Homo sapiens: one gene and its partners. The protein of the gene in region 4 purifies or fractionates together with the protein of the main gene of each other region. This does not show direct contact. Each region holds a gene or a part of one and is shown on either strand. Other genes may lie near its edges. The genes, in order: TRIM37, SMARCAD1, GPALPP1, ZNF816 and SORL1.

Evidence for each region.
Region 1: the proteins of ZNF816 (region 4) and TRIM37 purify together in Homo sapiens (affinity purification with mass spectrometry; 2 studies listed by BioGRID and IntAct, with this or other methods). This does not show direct contact.
Region 2: the proteins of ZNF816 (region 4) and SMARCAD1 purify together in Homo sapiens (affinity purification with mass spectrometry; 2 studies listed by BioGRID and IntAct, with this or other methods). This does not show direct contact.
Region 3: the proteins of ZNF816 (region 4) and GPALPP1 purify together in Homo sapiens (affinity purification with mass spectrometry; 2 studies listed by BioGRID and IntAct, with this or other methods). This does not show direct contact.
Region 5: the proteins of ZNF816 (region 4) and SORL1 purify together in Homo sapiens (affinity purification with mass spectrometry; one large-scale study listed by BioGRID and IntAct). This does not show direct contact.

The regions. Positions count from the first base shown.
Region 1 is NC_000017.11:59,051,366-59,054,885, forward strand, and holds part of TRIM37 (E3 ubiquitin-protein ligase TRIM37), read right to left. Parts: intron 1-3,520. UniProt on the Homo sapiens protein: E3 ubiquitin-protein ligase required to prevent centriole reduplication. Probably acts by ubiquitinating positive regulators of centriole reduplication.
Region 2 is NC_000004.12:94,249,345-94,252,864, reverse strand, and holds part of SMARCAD1 (SWI/SNF-related matrix-associated actin-dependent regulator of chromatin subfamily A containing DEAD/H box 1), read right to left. Parts: intron 3,212-3,520; coding exon 3,110-3,211; intron 2,204-3,109; exon of another isoform or gene 2,114-2,203; coding exon 2,032-2,113; intron 250-2,031; coding exon 1-249. UniProt on the Homo sapiens protein: DNA helicase that possesses intrinsic ATP-dependent nucleosome-remodeling activity and is both required for DNA repair and heterochromatin organization.
Region 3 is NC_000013.11:45,027,538-45,030,825, forward strand, and holds the end of GPALPP1 (GPALPP motifs-containing protein 1), read left to right. Parts: intron 1-247; coding exon 248-466; 3' UTR 467-2,768; downstream 2,769-3,288.
Region 4 is NC_000019.10:52,952,862-52,956,381, forward strand, and holds part of ZNF816 (zinc finger protein 816), read right to left. Parts: intron 3,244-3,520; 5' UTR 3,229-3,243; coding exon 3,166-3,228; intron 17-3,165; coding exon 1-16. Other genes in the region: ZNF816-ZNF321P (ZNF816-ZNF321 protein), read right to left, coding at 1-16, 3,166-3,228. UniProt on the Homo sapiens protein: May be involved in transcriptional regulation.
Region 5 is NC_000011.10:121,455,301-121,458,820, reverse strand, and holds part of SORL1 (sortilin-related receptor preproprotein), read right to left. Parts: intron 1-3,520. UniProt on the Homo sapiens protein: Sorting receptor that directs several proteins to their correct location within the cell. Along with AP-1 complex, involved Golgi apparatus - endosome sorting.

The DNA of each region.
Region 1 (3,520 bases), on a different chromosome or scaffold from region 4:
ATAGTAAAACATTATCAGTCTAGCACTGAATTCTGCAATTTGGGTTAACTTGATTATAAGGCCAAAATTCACATAAACTTAGAGCTGCTAGTATTTGTTGTTTATAGATGTAGTCCACAGATTATGACACAAGGTTCTGAAAAGCCAGTTGTCCTCAAACTACCTTTCTAAAGAAATAACATTGTACATTGTAGTTAAGCTTCCCAAACTAACCTACTCAGGCATATTTATTATAATAATGTAACTAAAATACAATGATGATCATGAGTTGGGAAGAAGAGAGCCATATACTATGCAGTTTCCTCCTATAAGGAGGAAGATAACTCTTATCCCTTTCTTCCCTAAATGAGGCCCCAGCAAAATACAAAGTTTTTTTTTTTTTTGAGACGGAGTCTCGCTCTGTCGCCCAGGCTGGAGTGCAGTGGCGGGATCTCGGCTCACTGCAAGCTCCACCTCCCGGGTTCACGCCATTCTCCTGCCTCAGCCTCCCAAGTAGCTGGGACTACAGGCGCCCGCCACTACGCCCGGCTAATTTTTTGTAGCAAAATACAAAGTTTTAAGTGCTGCTCTTTATATTTCTCTATTCCATCTCACGTTCCCGTATTTCCTGCCCCTCAGAAAAAAAATCACTTCCTGGCTCAACCACCCAGGATTGCTTTACTATCCCCCAAGGAGTTACATGCTCTAAATAAACTATATCCTGAACCCTTCAAGATAGCAATCAAAACTGCCCTTATTACAATATGGCATTATTTCAGCTTAGGTTAGGAAAAAAAGTACTGCACCTACATAAAATCGTATTAATATATAAATGACAGAATCTTAATCTATCCAGAGTTGTTTTAATTAAAAAAAAAAAAAAAACTATTACTAAAGCAAACAAACCTCTACCTTTGTTACATAGCCTAACGTGACTATATTTAAGGTGAAAAAATTGCAGTGCATGTGTGAAGGTGTTTTTGAAGAAAGGAAAAACCACAAGGCAAGACTAATTTGGACATCTACATCTCTCTCATTCCTTCCAGCCCTTTTACCCGGCTACACAATGTTAGCTGTTCATTTTTTTCTAGGATTTTACACCTTATTGTAAGAACCTACTGACCATTTAACAGTTATCTGGCAGTAGATATCTAGTTTTAGTGAAGAATACTAATGCAAGAAAGGACAGAACATAAACACTGACTATAAAACAACAGTCCTATTTAATGTTGGGATAGTCTTTATAGGTCAGAAGTTTTTGGGCATCATTATATGTTATAACTGGATGATCAAAATGAGAACTTGAGTATTAAAAAAAGAGAGAGATTGGCCGGGCACAGTGGCTCACACCTGTAATCTTAGCACTTTGGGAGGCCGAGGTGGGCAGATCACCTAAGGTCAGGAGTTCGAGACCAGCGTGGCCAACATGGTGAAACCCCGTCTCTACTAAAAGTACAAAAATTAGCCGGGTATGGTGGCGGGCGCCTGTAATCCCAGCTACTCAGGAGGCTGAGGCAGGAGAATCGCTTGAATCTGGGAGGCAAAGGTGGCAGTGAGCCGAGATCGCACCACTGCACTCCAGCCTGGGCAACAGAGCGAAACTCTGTCTCAAAAAATCAAATCAAATCAAATCAAATCAAATCAAATCAAATCAAATCAAGAGATTAAATTACGTTCTGAACGGAACTGAGTAGAGATGATTCACTCAACTGAGCAGAGACGATTCACAGTCTAGGAAGTACCCACTGGTAAGACATTAAAGTAAGACCGTCTAAACACTATTATTTTCTTTGAATGATTTAAACCACTGGTTAACTCTGCACATTAGTTCTAATATTTTGCCATTAAAACAAAACCAAGCAGCAGGTAAAATTTCTTAACTTTCTGTTTTAATGAAAGAATGAAACATACATTCATAGTTATAGAAAAGCCTTAAATAACTTTCTAATAAATACATACAAAATTCCACCAGAATCTTGAAATAAAAGGTTTAAAGTTTGAGCAATGTCTCATTAATAGGATAATGTGAAGCCCCCTATCCACAAACTTCATAGCAATTTACTTACGGTGCTACTATAGCATTATTTTATAATAAGAGAGTAGTAAATTCTGTTTTTATCTGCCAATTTCATCTTGAGTTCCCTGTGGACAAAAACCATGTCTATATTTTTCTTATTAGCAACTCAGTGTCAGGCATATGGTATAGACTCAATGTTGCTTAAAAAAAATGATGTCATAACAGGAATTTGTTTCTGTACTAATAAGTAACGCTAATAAGGATGAAATCAAGGCTATAAGAAAATGGGTCTTTTATAGGTTGGTAAAATTGATGTTTGAATAATTTTGTAATTCTCTCTATGGCTGAAGCATGAAATAGCAATAAATTATTTCTCTTGGTGAATAGTTAAACCCCAAAAGTCTGAAAAGCTATACGAAGAAAACTAAAATAATCCCTCCCCTCAAAAAACATGATTCCAGGCACCGTGGCATGCACCTGTAATCCTACCTACTTGGGAAGTTGAGACAGGAGGATCACTTGAGCCCGAGAATTCTAGACTAGACTGGGCAATATAGCAAGACACTGACTCTAAACAAAACAAAACAATAACAAAAACATATCTTTTTCCCTACACTGAAAATCATATCCCTTGTTAAACTTCTTTATACTTCCAGAAAAGCTACGGAAAACACATAAGAGTAAATGCTGATATGATAGCAACTCATCTGTCCAGTATGCTCAAGAACAAAGAGCTCCGAATAAGGGAAATTCAGGAGTACATTAAATCACTCTCAAGAAAAAAATGTTTAAAATTGTTGTGATGAGAACTTTTTAAACTGTTAAATACTCTGAAACTTCTCAGTTCAGAACATATTTTAATCTTTTTTAAATATTCAAGTTCTTATTTTGATCATCAAATTATAACATCATGTAATGATACCCAAAAACCTTTTTTTGTTTGTTTTTTGTTTTTTTAAGATGGAGTTTCACTCTTGTCGCCCAGGCTGGAGTGCACTGGTGAAATCTCGGCTCACTGCAACATCTGCCTCCCGGACTCAAGCGATTCAACTGCCTCAGCTTCCCAAGTAGCTGGGATTACAAGTGCCTGCCACCATGCCCAGCTAATTTTTGTATTTTTAGTAGAGACAGGGTTTCACCATGTTGCCCAGGCTGATCTTGAACTCCTGACCTCAGGTGATCCACCCACCTCAGCCTCCCAAAGTGCTGGGATTACAGGCGTGAGCCACGGCACCCAGCCAATGCCCAAAAACTTCTGACCTGTAAAGACTACCCCACGTTAAACAGGGCTGTTGTTTTTATTTACTTTATTATTATTTTTGAGATAGGGTCTTGCTATGTCGCCCAGGCTGGGGTGCAGTGGCATAATCTCGGTTCACTGCAACCTCCACCTGCCGGATTCAAGCGATTCTCCTGCCTTGGCCTCCTGAGTAGCTGGGATTACAGGCGCGTGCCACCACAGCCCGGCTAATTTTTGTATTTTTAGTAGAGATAGGATTTCACCATATTGGCCAGGCTGCTCTC
Region 2 (3,520 bases), on a different chromosome or scaffold from region 4:
CTTCTTCACCACTACTATAGTCCTCATCTAGTGAACTACCGACATCAGAACCTGAATCATATTCAGAGTCTTCAACAACTCTCTTTGGATTAAAAACATTTTTTTTACGTTTCTTGTTAAAGCCATTTTGTGCTTTCATTGAAAATTTCTGTTTTAGTTTTGTTTTAGTTGCATTTTTAGGGTAATTTTGACTTCTTGAAGAAACTTCTTTTCCATTTGGAACCTCACTTTGTGATACATATTGCATATCTGTATATAAAAGACAAAAACAGTAACTAAATTAGAAATACATAAATATAAAGATAGACTTCAAATAAAAACTTAAAACATTTACCTATTCCTATTGAATACAGAAGAATTCAACGACAATTTATTGTTAAATTTGATACACTTTAAAAATACTTAAGTAGAATTTGAAGTTAAACAATTGTTTCAAAAGCAGGTGATAACTTGTTTTTAAAATGAATTAAATATAAATCTCTGTTTTCTAACAAAGGTCCTGAGAACACAAATGGCAGCTGCGTATCTGTATGATGTCTCAGATATTCCTAGCAGCCCCACTCAACTATGCCAACACTGAAGAATATAGCAGAATGATGCTTACACTACTATAAAGCTTACTAATAAAAAGTGTGTATGTTTCAACTATCCATAATTTTCCAATACTATCTTCAATATTCTAAGTTGCATCGTTACTTAAAAAATTATTCAAATAGGCTGGGCATGGTGGCTCACGCCTGTAATCCCAGCACTTTGGGAGGCCGACGCGGGCAGATCACAAGGTCAGGAGTTCGAGACCAGCCTGACCAACATGGTGAAACCCTGTCTCTACTAAAAATATAAAAATTAGCCAGGCATGGTGGTGCATGCCTGTAATCCCAGCTACTCAGAAGGCTGAGGCAGGAGAATCGCTTGAACCTGGGAGGTGGAGGTTGCAGTTAGCCGAGACTGTGCCACTGCACTCCAGCCTGGGCGACAGAGCAAGACTCCGTCTCAAAAAAAATAAAAAATAAAAAAAATTATTCAAATACAGTATTATCAAAAAGCCCCACTACTTTATCACTGATTATCAGTTTACAGAATTCTAAGATGCCTGTGAATGAAGGTAACACCATTATTTTATGTACCAGTGAGAAAACATGCACCAATCTATAATACAATACTTTATTCAGAAATTTTTACTTACTCAGAAAGCTATTAGACTTACACAGATTATCATACCTTTATTTTTGTGCATTTATAAAAAATAAGCAAAATGAATTGGCTAAAGTATTCCTCAAATGTTTTCACATTCATAACATGGCTCTTCTGACTCATTTTTCAAACTCATATTTGGTGGCTTTCTTTTTGCCACAGAATATCATTTTCTGTGCCATCAACAGTATTGGTAGTATAGCCTTTTAAAACAATTTATTAAAAACAAACAAACAAAAAAACCCAAACCAAAACACCAAAAGCTACCATGCTGGGTTTGCAATTATGAAGAGCTAGTCTACTTGATTCTTCCTTAGGTATGTTACTAAACATGTATGACTCAACTCTTCCTTACCACCTCTCCTCTATCATTTGGTTCCTAGAATTAAGAGTGTTCCAAAATGTGTTCATGCCTATGATACCCTTAAGTTTTTGATGCTAGTGCTTTTGATATCTGTGCAAGTATAGGCTAAGACATCTACATTACAGTAATGACATGATATCACCAATCACAAGATCCATCCTGACAGTTGTTAAAAAGGTTATTTTACACTCAATAAAACATGGCAATTTAAAAGTAGCCTTAACTATTAAGAAAGACTGAACAAATAGAAAAAGATATTTATTGTTTTGTTTTACACTATGATAAAGAACAGGCAGGTCAAAACATTTAAAAACTGGTTGTTAAAGAATGTTTTTACATCATTACTTTCAACATCTTTTGCAATCCCACCCTCTGATTAACAGCTAATAGCTTTTCTTATATACCATTTTCTTATATACTAAAATACAGACTATAATGAGAAGTATGTATTTTCTATGACCCAGAATAATTACCTTGGTCTTCTGCAAACACTTTTAGAGATTCTAAAGCTTCTGTGTACATCCATTCATGTTCCTTGAGTACTTCTCTAAGTTCCTAGAAATAAGTCATTTATCTTTTTGTTAAAAATCTCAAATTAGCAACTTGCAGAAAACGTCTATGCTCTTTTAAAAATAAGTTAATCACCTGAAAACAGAGAATTCACATCTGATTATTTTGCACTTGTTTTTACACTGCTTTACAAATGCTTTCTGTGTAATTTCACCTCCACAAATACACAATAGTCTTCAAAGGAAAGAAAACTTGACATTTTTTTGCATTTCTAATGCTCACTATGAAGTACTGTGAACACTAGAGGATCAAGAAATGTTTTCTCAATTAAAAATGAAATTTCAATATGCAGCTAGGCTTTTACAAACTGCTAACTTCAAAACGTAGTTTCAACAAAGGTAAAGAACCAATATTGCAACAAGATTTTGCATTCAGCTCATCAGAATTTAGTAGATGTACTATCTGAACATATATACTCAAATAAATCAGTGCAAGTGTAAATGTACTCTAAATGCTAAACAAATATGTGCTTCTATATATGATCATGGGATTAAACAGAGGGCCTTTTAGCAACAGGATGCGTGGCATGAGTCTTTTTTTTTAATGACTCTGAAAACATTCTCACTATCTGGGAAGTAGTAGAAAGCTTATAAAATATTAAGACACTGAAATGGAATACTTTTTAAATTCTTGTAAGAAATTTCAAGAATGAGAACATGAAAAAAACTAAGCAGTTACTTGATGGGGGCAGGGTTACAGATGACTTTCTAGATGACTTACATGTTATAAATGAGTTCACAATTTTTATTACGGTTATTTTTTAATGACTTAGGGATACAGTATAGATACTATAGTAAACAAGGTAAATAAACAACATAAATAAACAGTATGAAAATACTTTATAACATTGATAAAAGGAGAACATTTAATTAGAAGAATACAAAACTCACCCTAAGCTTTTATGTGGTTGAACTCTTAACACTATTTTATAATAAAAACACTTAGTACACACTGATTAAATTTTCATACACGACTACTCACCTGTTTATCAAAATTGGGAAATTCCTTTTGCAATTTCAGTACAATACTTTCCTGCTTTTCCCAATTACTGCTAGATTCTGCAGACTCATTTGATTCCTCTCCCTAATGGGGAGAAAAAAAAAAGAAAACAATTTAAGAGATATCAATAACAATGGTCTTAAGGCAATTATCATTGTATTTTGACTTGATCTGAAAATTATCATCATCAGTCAGAAGAATCCAAACTGTTTCTTTTTGTTTCTGTGAACATTGACATATTTATGTCTTTAAGGATGAAAAATATTGCTGACTTAAGATCACTGAAAGACCCTGATTGCATATCCGGTAACTCAAACTTTATTCTCAGTGCTTAAAATGAGATAAATCTCCTAAAAAACTAGAATGATCCTCAAATTAACTCAATATAATTCA
Region 3 (3,288 bases), on a different chromosome or scaffold from region 4:
GCTCTTTCTTTCACACCCCGTTCTTGGTTTGTACTCTGATGTTTAGTATTTAAATAACCATAATGCTTTTCATTACATATTTTCTTTATAAATGCTGTCTTGGATTTGGAAAAAAAAAAACTACTGGGGTTTGTAAATAGCCCTCCTTAATGTGCACCATTACTATCTATTCCGTTTCATGGTCATATTCTGTCAATAATCTATATACAAACTATAGTTTTTATTTCTGCTCTCCTGCTCTCTCCAGGAATCAAAAAGATCAGAATCTCTTATGGACATACATCATAAAAAGTTAAAGAGTAAGGCTGCTGAAGACAAAAATAAGCCTCAAGAGAGAATACCATTTGACCGTGATAAAGATCTCAAGGTTAATCGGTTTGATGAAGCTCAGAAAAAAGCCCTAATAAAAAAATCTAGAGAACTAAACACCAGATTTTCACACGGCAAAGGCAATATGTTTTTATAAGTAAGTATATTTCAGTGAGGTATATTTTAATACTGATCAATGTGAACTTTTCTAAATACTCTATTGTCTTTAATAATTGTGCTGAAATCTATTTCCTTTTATAATAGATTAAAAATTTTATATTTTTATAAGTAAACAGTGATTTTTGAAAAGTCAGCCTTGTGGGATGAAAAATATGTCTTACTGGAAAAATCCCTCATAATAACCTAATAGGGCATTGCTATTAAAAATGCTAAAATAAAAATTCAGCTTATGAGAAATGGCAAAGGAAGGTGTGGTTTGATACTTGAGTAAATATGCATGCTTTATTAAAGATGAAGAAAGGCTTGCTGGTTGTTTGTATGTTAAACAAAATCCCAACTAGGAAATGTTTGTTGCTTAGAAAGGTCCCCTATAAGTTAAGGTTCAAAACTATTCCAATATTCATCCATAGCCCAATCTGACAAGGGTTCAGAATGGTGATTAAGAAATTACATAAAGCTGGGTGCAGTGGCTCACGCCTGTAATCCCAACACTTTGGGAGGCCAATGTGAGAGGATCGCTTGAGCCCAGTAGTTTGAGACCAGCCTGCTTAAGATGGTGAGACCCCGTATCTACAAAAAACTAACCAGGTGCAGTGGAGCACACCTATAGTCCCAGCTACTCAGCAGGCTGAGGTGGGAGGATCCCTTGAGCCCAGGAATTCAAGGCAGCAGTGAGCTGTGATTGTGCCATTGCACTCCAGTCTGGGCAACAAAGTGAGACCTCGTCTCTTTAGAAAAAAAAAAAGAGGCCAGTGGCTCACACCTGTAATCCCAGCACTTTGGGAGGGTGAGGCGGGTGGATCACCTGAGGTCAGGAGTTCGAGACCAGCCTGAACAACATGGTGAAACCCCATCTCTATTAAAAATATATATATATAAAAATTAGCCAGGTGTGGTGGCACGTGCCTGTAATCTCAGCTACTTGGGAGCCTGAGGCAGGAGAATTGCTTGAACCCGGGAGGTGGAGGTTACAGTGAGCCGAGATCGTGCCACTGCACTCTAGCCTAGGTGACAAGATCGAGAGACTCTGTCTCAAAAAAGAAAGAAAAAGAGAAGAAAAGAAATTACATAAAAGCTGAGGTTGCTTCTTAATATCTTTATGATTTTTAATTGTATTAAACCTATATCAATATTCAAATGTGATTTTTGAGGAAAATATGTTAAATTTAGAAATATTTTCCAACTTACTGAGTTTTCTTATTCTTACCTCAGGGGGATTTCCCTGTGCAATGAAGAAAAGTTGAAGAATACTCTTTGTCCATCTTTATTTCTTTGTTTTTGGCTTCTTAAGATTAGAGATTACTTTAATCTTAAAAAACATACAAATTTACCTTGTTCTGTATGTCCTTTTAAGGTCATGTGGAAACATAAAACGAATGTTTTTTATGTAGAACAGAATATTCTATGTGCCTTTAGCTTCTGTGGAAGTATGGGGAATTATGGGCTTTTCTTCAAATAATTATTTTAAGAGGCTTCCATTCCCCCTGATTTTTGTGGTGTCTCACAAGTACCCTCTAAGGTCTGGTCAGGACTGACCACCAAATCTCTACCACAGCCTGGACCTCCTTGTGAAATATACCTAACCTGCCCTAGAGTCAGTGTGTCAAGTCCTTACTGTAAATCCATGACTTTGAAATTTGTTGTTTTTTCCCTTTAAACTGCAGCCAGTGAATACAAATTTACTTGAAAATAGAGGGTATGGGGTTTTGCCTGTTTTGTAATCAGTTTGCTTGTTTTAGCACTCAGGGCTTTTTATTTGTTATTTAATTTTTTAATTGTTTTTAAGTCAGAAAGATCTCTGGGTTATCTCATGTGCTAAGGAAAAACTATTTTGCTTTTTCCAACTTTAATAGTTAGTATTTCTAGGGGAGGCAATCAAGATAAGATATGCCATTAACTGTTAGCATTGTGAAATCTGTAAGACTCAATCTCTGATCTCAACCAAAGCTTTCTGAGTCCTGGAACTTTGCTTTGGGACAACTTTACTTTACCCATTTATATGCTGTACTTAACAGTTTGTAGCTAATTTATGGGGTCATATCTTTTTTTTAGCTAATTTACGGGGGTCATATCAGTCATGAATAGCCTTTTTTAAAAATTTAATAATCCCTGAATACAAAAATGGAAATGGAAAATTTATAATCATAACCCCCCTAATTGGGAGTATTATAAGTTTGTAATGCTTTAAGCACTGCCTCTTAAGATGATAAATTTATAAGATGAGAAATTCTATTTAAACTATTAAACTATTGTTAAATAAATGCCAATTCTATAAGTTATATTTTCTTGCAGATTAATCCCAATTGTTCCACTAGTATTCTAGTTTTGATGAGACACAAATTTTTGTTGTTGTTTATTTTTGTTTTTTTGAGAGATGGAGTCTTGCTCTGTCACCCAGGCTGGAGTAGAGTGGCGTGATCTCAGCTTACTGCAACCTCCGCCTCCTGGGTTCAAGCGATTCTCCTGCCTCAGTGTCCCAAGTAGCTGGGACTACAGGCGTGCACCACCATGCTCAGCTAATTTTTGTATTTTTTAGTAGAGATGGGGTTTCACTATATATTGTTCCAGGCTGGTCTCGAACTCCAGACCTCAGGTGATCTACCTGCCTCGGCCTCCCAAAATGCTGGGATTACAGGCATCAGCCACCATGCCTGGCCAAGACACAAATTTTTAATGGAAAAATATTCTGATTCCCAGTTCATGTAAGCTTTATGAAAATTGAGTATATTGTTTATATGATGGTACAAATTATTCTTCCTCTAATAATAGCAGTACAGTATATTTTTTCCATAGCATCAG
Region 4 (3,520 bases):
TGAAAGTCAAGCGTCCCTAAAATAAAAAACACGTTTCAACAAAACATTATGGAGGAGTGAGTTATTGCCCTCACGTGAAATGAGAAAACAGAAAATAAGTATTGATTTGATCCAAGACTGTGTTCTGACAAATTTATGTTAAGGTATTTTTGAACAATTTTTCAGTATAGTTGCATTTTATTGTACTTTTTCATGATAGCTTTTAAAATCCCCTAAGTCACTGTGGAAGTCTCAGTTTTATGGACAATATAAGGCCAGGAATGGTGGCTCATGCCTAAAATCCCAGCACTTTGTGAGACCAAGGCAGGTGGATCTCCTGAGCTCAGGAGTTCGAGCCCAGGACAATATGGTGTAACCCCGTCTCTACTAAAAATACAAAAAAAAAACCAGGTGTGGTGGCACACGCCTCTAGTCCCAGCTACCTGGGAGGCTGATGCACGAGAATAACTTGAGAACAAGAGACGAATGTTGCAGTGAGCCAAGATCGTGCCATTGCACTCCAGCTTGGGCTGCAGAGTAGGACTCCATCTCAAAAAAAAAAAGAAAAAAAATATATATATACACACATACACATATGTTTTATATATATAATATATACTTATATATATTATATATAAATATATAATATATATTTTAATATTTAATTATATATAATATATATTTATAATATATAATATATAATACAATATTATATATAATATGTATTTATAAAATATAATATATAATACAATATTATATATAATATGTATTTATAAAATATATATGATACAATATTATATATAATATATATTACAATATTGTATCATATATTATATATAATATTGTATAATAAATATATTATTAAATAAAGATATTAAATATATATAATATATATTTTATATATATATATAAAATAAGTCCAGACATGGTGGCTCACACCTGTAATCCCATCACTTTGGGAGACCAAGGTGGGTGGATCACTTAAGGTCAGGAGTTAGAGACCAACCTCTCCAACATGGCAAAACTCCGTATCTACTAAAAATAAAAAAATTGGCTGAGCATGGTAGGGAGGTGCCTGTAATCCCAACTATTCAGGAAGCTGAAACAGGAAAATCGCCTGAACTCTGGAAGCAGGGGTTGCAGTAAGCCAAGGTCACACCATTGCAATCCTGCCTGAGCAACAGACTGAGACTCTTTCTCAAAAAAAAAAAAAAAAAGGTATATATATATTGCAAATAATGTATTTTCTACATAAACCGTGGGATTGGCTGCACACAGTAGGTACACCTGTAATCCCAGCACTTTGGGAGGCTCAGGCAGGTGGATAACCTAAAGTCAGGAGTTTGACACCAGCCTGAAGAACATGGACAAATTCTGTCTCTACTAAAAATACAAAGTTAGCTGGGAATGGTGGCGCATGCCTATATTCCCAGCTACTGAACCTGGGAGGTGGAAGTTGCAGTGAGCCGATATCGTGCCACTGCACTCCAGCCTGGGCCACAAGAATGAAACTCCGTCTCAAAAAAAACAAACAAACAACAACAACAAAAAAGAAATGAAACAAAACTGTCAAGGACTCATGAGTCTTCATTCAGAGAAAGCTCCAAGGAGGATTTAAAAGAGTGAGCTATCTTGTTTTCTACCTTGGAAACATGAAAATTTTCAGAACTTGCAGGATAAAATATCATAACAAACATTCATCAGACCGGGAGCAGGGCTCACACCTGAAATCCCAGCACTTAGGGAGGCCGACGTGGAAGGATCACTTGAGGCCAAAAGTTCGAGACCAGCCTGGCCAACATGGTGAAACCCCATCTGTACTAATAACACAACAATTAGCCAGGAGTGTAGCACGCATCTGTAAATGCAGCTACTCAGTTGGCTGAAGCGTAAGACTCATTTGAACCTGAGAGCCAGAGGTTGCAATGTGCCACTACACTCCAGGCGGGGAGGCCCTGTCTCAAAAAACATGCAAAAAAAAAAAAAAAAAACCCCATTCATCAAATAATTTTTTCTAAAATCTCATAACGGTATATGAATACATTTCTAAAGGATTGCGCCGACTTGCCACAGAACTCTCAACAGCGATTCCCCACTGAGACATGGGAATGGGTGGAAGGCTGGACAGGAAAGGGGATGCATAAGTGCACTTTTCTTTGGACTTTTACTACACAACACATATATACATCATGTGATGTTTAAAATAAAAGAATTACTTAATAATAATGGGTAGAAAAAGAATGGCTCCATCCTCTCTAACGACGTAAGTTGTGCTCTTATGTCAGAGCAAACTTATAATCATTTTTACCTAAAATGTTTGCTTCATCAGAGTCCCTGTAAAAAAAACAAAACAAAACAAAAAACAAAAAAAAAGTCTCTGTGGGGTCAAAGTGCTGAGAATGATTTAAAGAATCCCCTGCAGTTAGATATTTATATTGATTTCATAATTTGAAGTCAATGATGGAATAAAGCTAACTCTATTACTGGTATCTATATCCGCTTTCCATTCTATTCTAAGACATTGAAAGTGCAGAGTCCTGCTGGGCTGTCTCACACCTGTAATCCCAGCAATTTGGGAAGCTCAGGTGGGAGGGCCACTTAAGCCCAGGAGTTCGAGGCTGCTGTAAACTAGAATTGTGCCATTGCACTCCAGACTGGGCCCCAGAGTGACACCGTGTCTCTTAAAACAAAAGTTTGGCGTCAGAGACATATTGACTCACTAGTGTAGCTTCAAATGCATTACAAAATCAGACACAAAATATCTCCCCTAGTTTGTCTCCTCTTCCAGAATTTACCAGATTAACCAGTGAACATTAATGTATGACTTTCATATACAGTTTCTCTGATCTGGTCCACAAAGAGCTAAACATGCATCCAGATGTGGCCCCTGAACAATCCCTGCTGCCCAACATCACTGACACCATGGGGCCCACACCCCATCTCCATCCATGTCTGGTGTGAGCCCTTCCCAGGACCATGCCCAGTGGAGCCTCTTCCCAAGCTCATGTCACTAGGTTATAGGAGATGGAATTTAAGTGAAGATGAGAGGGACTGAGAAAAGACACGGGTGAGTGCGAGCAAACGTGTGATGTAGAATGCTTCACACTCAGAGAAGATTGGCTACTACAATACCTGGCACTTCAGAAAGGAAAGAGACAGAAGAATCCACCAAGGAATATCACTTACCTGAGGAAGAGCCATCCCTGGCTCCTTTTCTTTGCTCTTCTTGGTGGCTTCCTCACGTAACATGAGTCTTTGGAAATCCTGTATGTTAAAAAAGCAAGAGATTTAATATTTAGAAACCATTGACTCCTTTCCTGTGACAAAACACACACACAGGGGAAACCTCACCCGAGAGAAAGATGGTCCTTTGCTACCCACTGCACCAGAGACCATGCAGAGATAAGAAAGTTCCACAGGAAGACCTACAAATGTAATTTTGACCCGTTTTCAGATCTTGCTCCCCTCCTGGAAAAGTCCACACACACGCTGCAGCAGGACACAGATCTTCAGGGCACAGATCTAGCCCTAACCAAACTCC
Region 5 (3,520 bases), on a different chromosome or scaffold from region 4:
GGAGGAAACTCAAATCTTGATCTTGCTCAGCAGCCCACCCTGCCTTTTCTGGATTTTAGCTTCATCAGCCACTTCAGCGCTTGAAGGCCGCCCATGCCACTTCTTCGAAGGCCCAGGGTTCACAGGTCGATAAGCCAATAAATTAGGTCGAAATTAACTGTGGCTCATTTTAAATTGAGGGAAATTGATTTTTGCATGTACGTGGCTAGACTGACTATACCATCTGCCAACAGTGTCTGGCATACCTAGAAAATGCATAGGAAAGTCCCATGCTCATCAACAGAGAATGCCTCACCCCCACAGCCCAGACCACCTCTGGAGAAATACTAATCCCTGAATATTCAAACCAAAAATGCAGTGAGCTCTCTTTTACTTTCCATCACATTTATTTAAATCCAAATAAATGGAGGAAAGGTCAATGTAATGCCCCCAGGTTTTAATACATTTTTATTCATTTAAAACATTTAATACATTTTTATCAACTCTCAATTATCTGCATCTGAATTATTGTCGCAAATTCTAAACTCCAAACTGCCTTTCCCTGAATACATTTAGGCCAGCCATTTCCCTTATCAATAGATCAAAGAATGCAAACTCATTTTAATATTCACCTGAGCAAAACTTAATTAGGAAGGTAAACGAATGCTTTAAAAAAAAGACTACATAAATACATAGCAAAAGCAAATCGATTATTTTTTGGATTACCTGCTCTCCAGATTATGATAAGACTGCCCCCTGTGTCCCTCCATTACAGTGGGTGGAACAAAGCTGGCTCCAACTATCTCTGCCCTGGGATTCAACAATGACACTATGAAGATGGCTGTCATCTCTAAGGAGGAACAGACCAAAATCTGACAATGAAATGTTCCTACAACATCCACCTTTTGCCTTGGGATGTTCGTTGCTATAAGGATCTGCCTCGTGGATCCCAAGTCTCAAAGCAATTTATTAAGCATACCATTAACTTCATTTTACAGAACATAGAGAAAACATTCTCAGACAGAACACAAATTAAAACCAAGATCCATGATCACTGTATTCTGATGCTCTTACAAGCCTGGACTCCACATCTCAAGGGAACTGTGCTCCAGCATCTCTCCAAGTTACAAGGGGGCTACATCAGGCTGCTCTCCTGCTCTGCAAGAACGCTTGAAGTGAAAGGAGAATGAGGTTTTTCTCACCTGGCCTGGAAAAAAAGTAATCATCTATTTTATATTATGATACTTCAGGTAATTTTCTAACAATTCACCATCATAATATCACAAATATAATTTAGAGCTAAAGTTAATCTCATTATTCAGGATACCAGGGACTACAGGTAACAGGAAGCCATTTATAATTCAAGTTTCCAATTTTATGTACATACATGTTGTACATGCATAGACTGTTTCTGGAAAGATATACAAAAATATTGATAACAACGGATGCCACCCGGAAAGGAGCTCTGGGTGAACAGGGGGCATGAGAGGGAAGGAAATTTGTTACCACATACGCTTTTGTACAAATTTTGTTTTGTAAACGTGCATTACCTAATCAGACAGCTTTTTATTTCATCCCTCCAAATTCCGCCTCCTTACTCTTCTCACCAACCCCTTTCCTCCATTCCTTCCCCCTCGCAAAGCCTCCACCTTCTGTGCCTCTAACCATGCAAGCTATTTATGAACTAAAAGCGGCCAGAGACTGGGCACAGAGCTCCCTAAGAAAAGACGCCAAGTGGAACCAGGAAGAGCTTTTCAAGGTCACGTCCCTTATTGAGCCAACCCAAGGCCCCGAGCAACTCTTCAGCTACATAAAAGCCAACCTGAAGCAGCACATTCTTTGCCTTCTCATCTTATTCTGGAAGCACACAGGTCAAACATCCTAACTTCAGAATCAACCAGCCAATTCTTTCCCAAGCAAGTGTATCATGGAAGAATCTACTCAAAAGAGATCTAAAGCTGAACGGTATTCCACCCCCAAAGGAGGCCTTTTGTCCCAGGGCCTTGTGCTGTAATAGACACTTTATTTTCAGTCTCAAATCAGGACACTGAATACTCCCTGGCTTCTAAAATGTAGGAATTATGAAGAGAGAGCTTGTTGGAAGGAAAATAAACCTGTAAATCCTGTTAGGCTTTGTGCTTTATTCCAAAGGATTTTTCCCCAAAACAATACCATTAGCATAAACCAGAATGATAGCCCTAAAAGGGAGGATTCTGTAAAATAGAATCCAAGCTCTTCATTGAAAATAACTCCCATATAGCACAGGCAAATCAGGGCTCCACTATCTGTAGGCCATGCCGCTTGCATCCTCACTACCGAATGAGCCATCTCATTTTCACTATCCATGTGTGGGTTCACTGTATTCCTCCTTACAAATACATTTTATATAATGTGAATGTGCTTCCTACCCTCTGGGCCTCTCTTCTTCCAGGTGTGTGGCTGGTCCACAAATACTCATTAAGGGCCTCCCAAGTGCCAGGGAAACACAAGAGAACTTGATCCATGCCCTCAAGGAGCAAACAGGAAGATGAGACAGTTGAGCAATTCTAACACAAGGCAGTAAGTGCTGCCTCCAAGCTCAGAAGAAACTCTTCCCACCATAGCCTGAGAATACCAAGAGGTATTCCTTGGATGTTAAAGAATGGAATAAGAGCTTCCCAGGCAAGGACAAGAGTTGGGGAAGATCATTTCAGGCAGAGGAAAAAGCAGGTATGATGGCGCAGACAGACAGAGCTTATGAGAAATCAGGAGGAAATTCAGTGTGGCATGAATTAGGGAATCCCTCTTCTTGGACCTGGCCTTTAAGAAGGGGCTCAACTTCTAAACTTTGCCTTTTTTTTTTTTTTTTTTAGATGGAGTCTCACTCTGTCCCCCAGGCTGGAGTGCAATGGCGCGATCTCGGCTCACTGCAACCTCCGCCTCCGGGGTTCAAGCGATTCTCCTGCCTCAGCCTCTTGAGTAGCCAGGACTACAGGCATCTGCCACCACGCCCAGTGAATTTTTGTAGTTTTAGTAGAGACGGGGTTTCCCCATGTGGACCAGGCTGGTTTCGAACTCCTGACCTCAAGTGATCCACCCGCCTCGGCCTCCCACAGTGCTGGGATTACAGGCGTGAGCCTTGAACATGGGCAGAAAAGTCCTGATATCTGCCAGCAAATTATTTTCACCCCTACAATCACATTTCAGTATCATAAATGTGCCTTTAAGTAATCATGGCAGAAGCCGGTCTCCCCACCTTAGAGAAACTGAGGAGGAAAATGGTCAAAATAACCAAGCCTAGTTTACCCAAGACATTAGCGAAGCAGAGGAAAAAGGACCGACATTGACTCCAGCACAGGGCTCTTTCTCAGATGCAAGTATTCCCCTAGAAAGCCTTCCCTTCTCTTCTCCCTGAAGGTGGTGGCCTTAACATCGCCTCTAGGCCTGCTTCCTTCAGGCAGCTTCTGCTTCCAGCCCTAACCTGTGCTGCCAGTGTCCTCTTAACCTCACTCAAAGGTCAGAGGGCAAGAAGCTGGACAGTGTCTGAGCCCACCACCCCTTA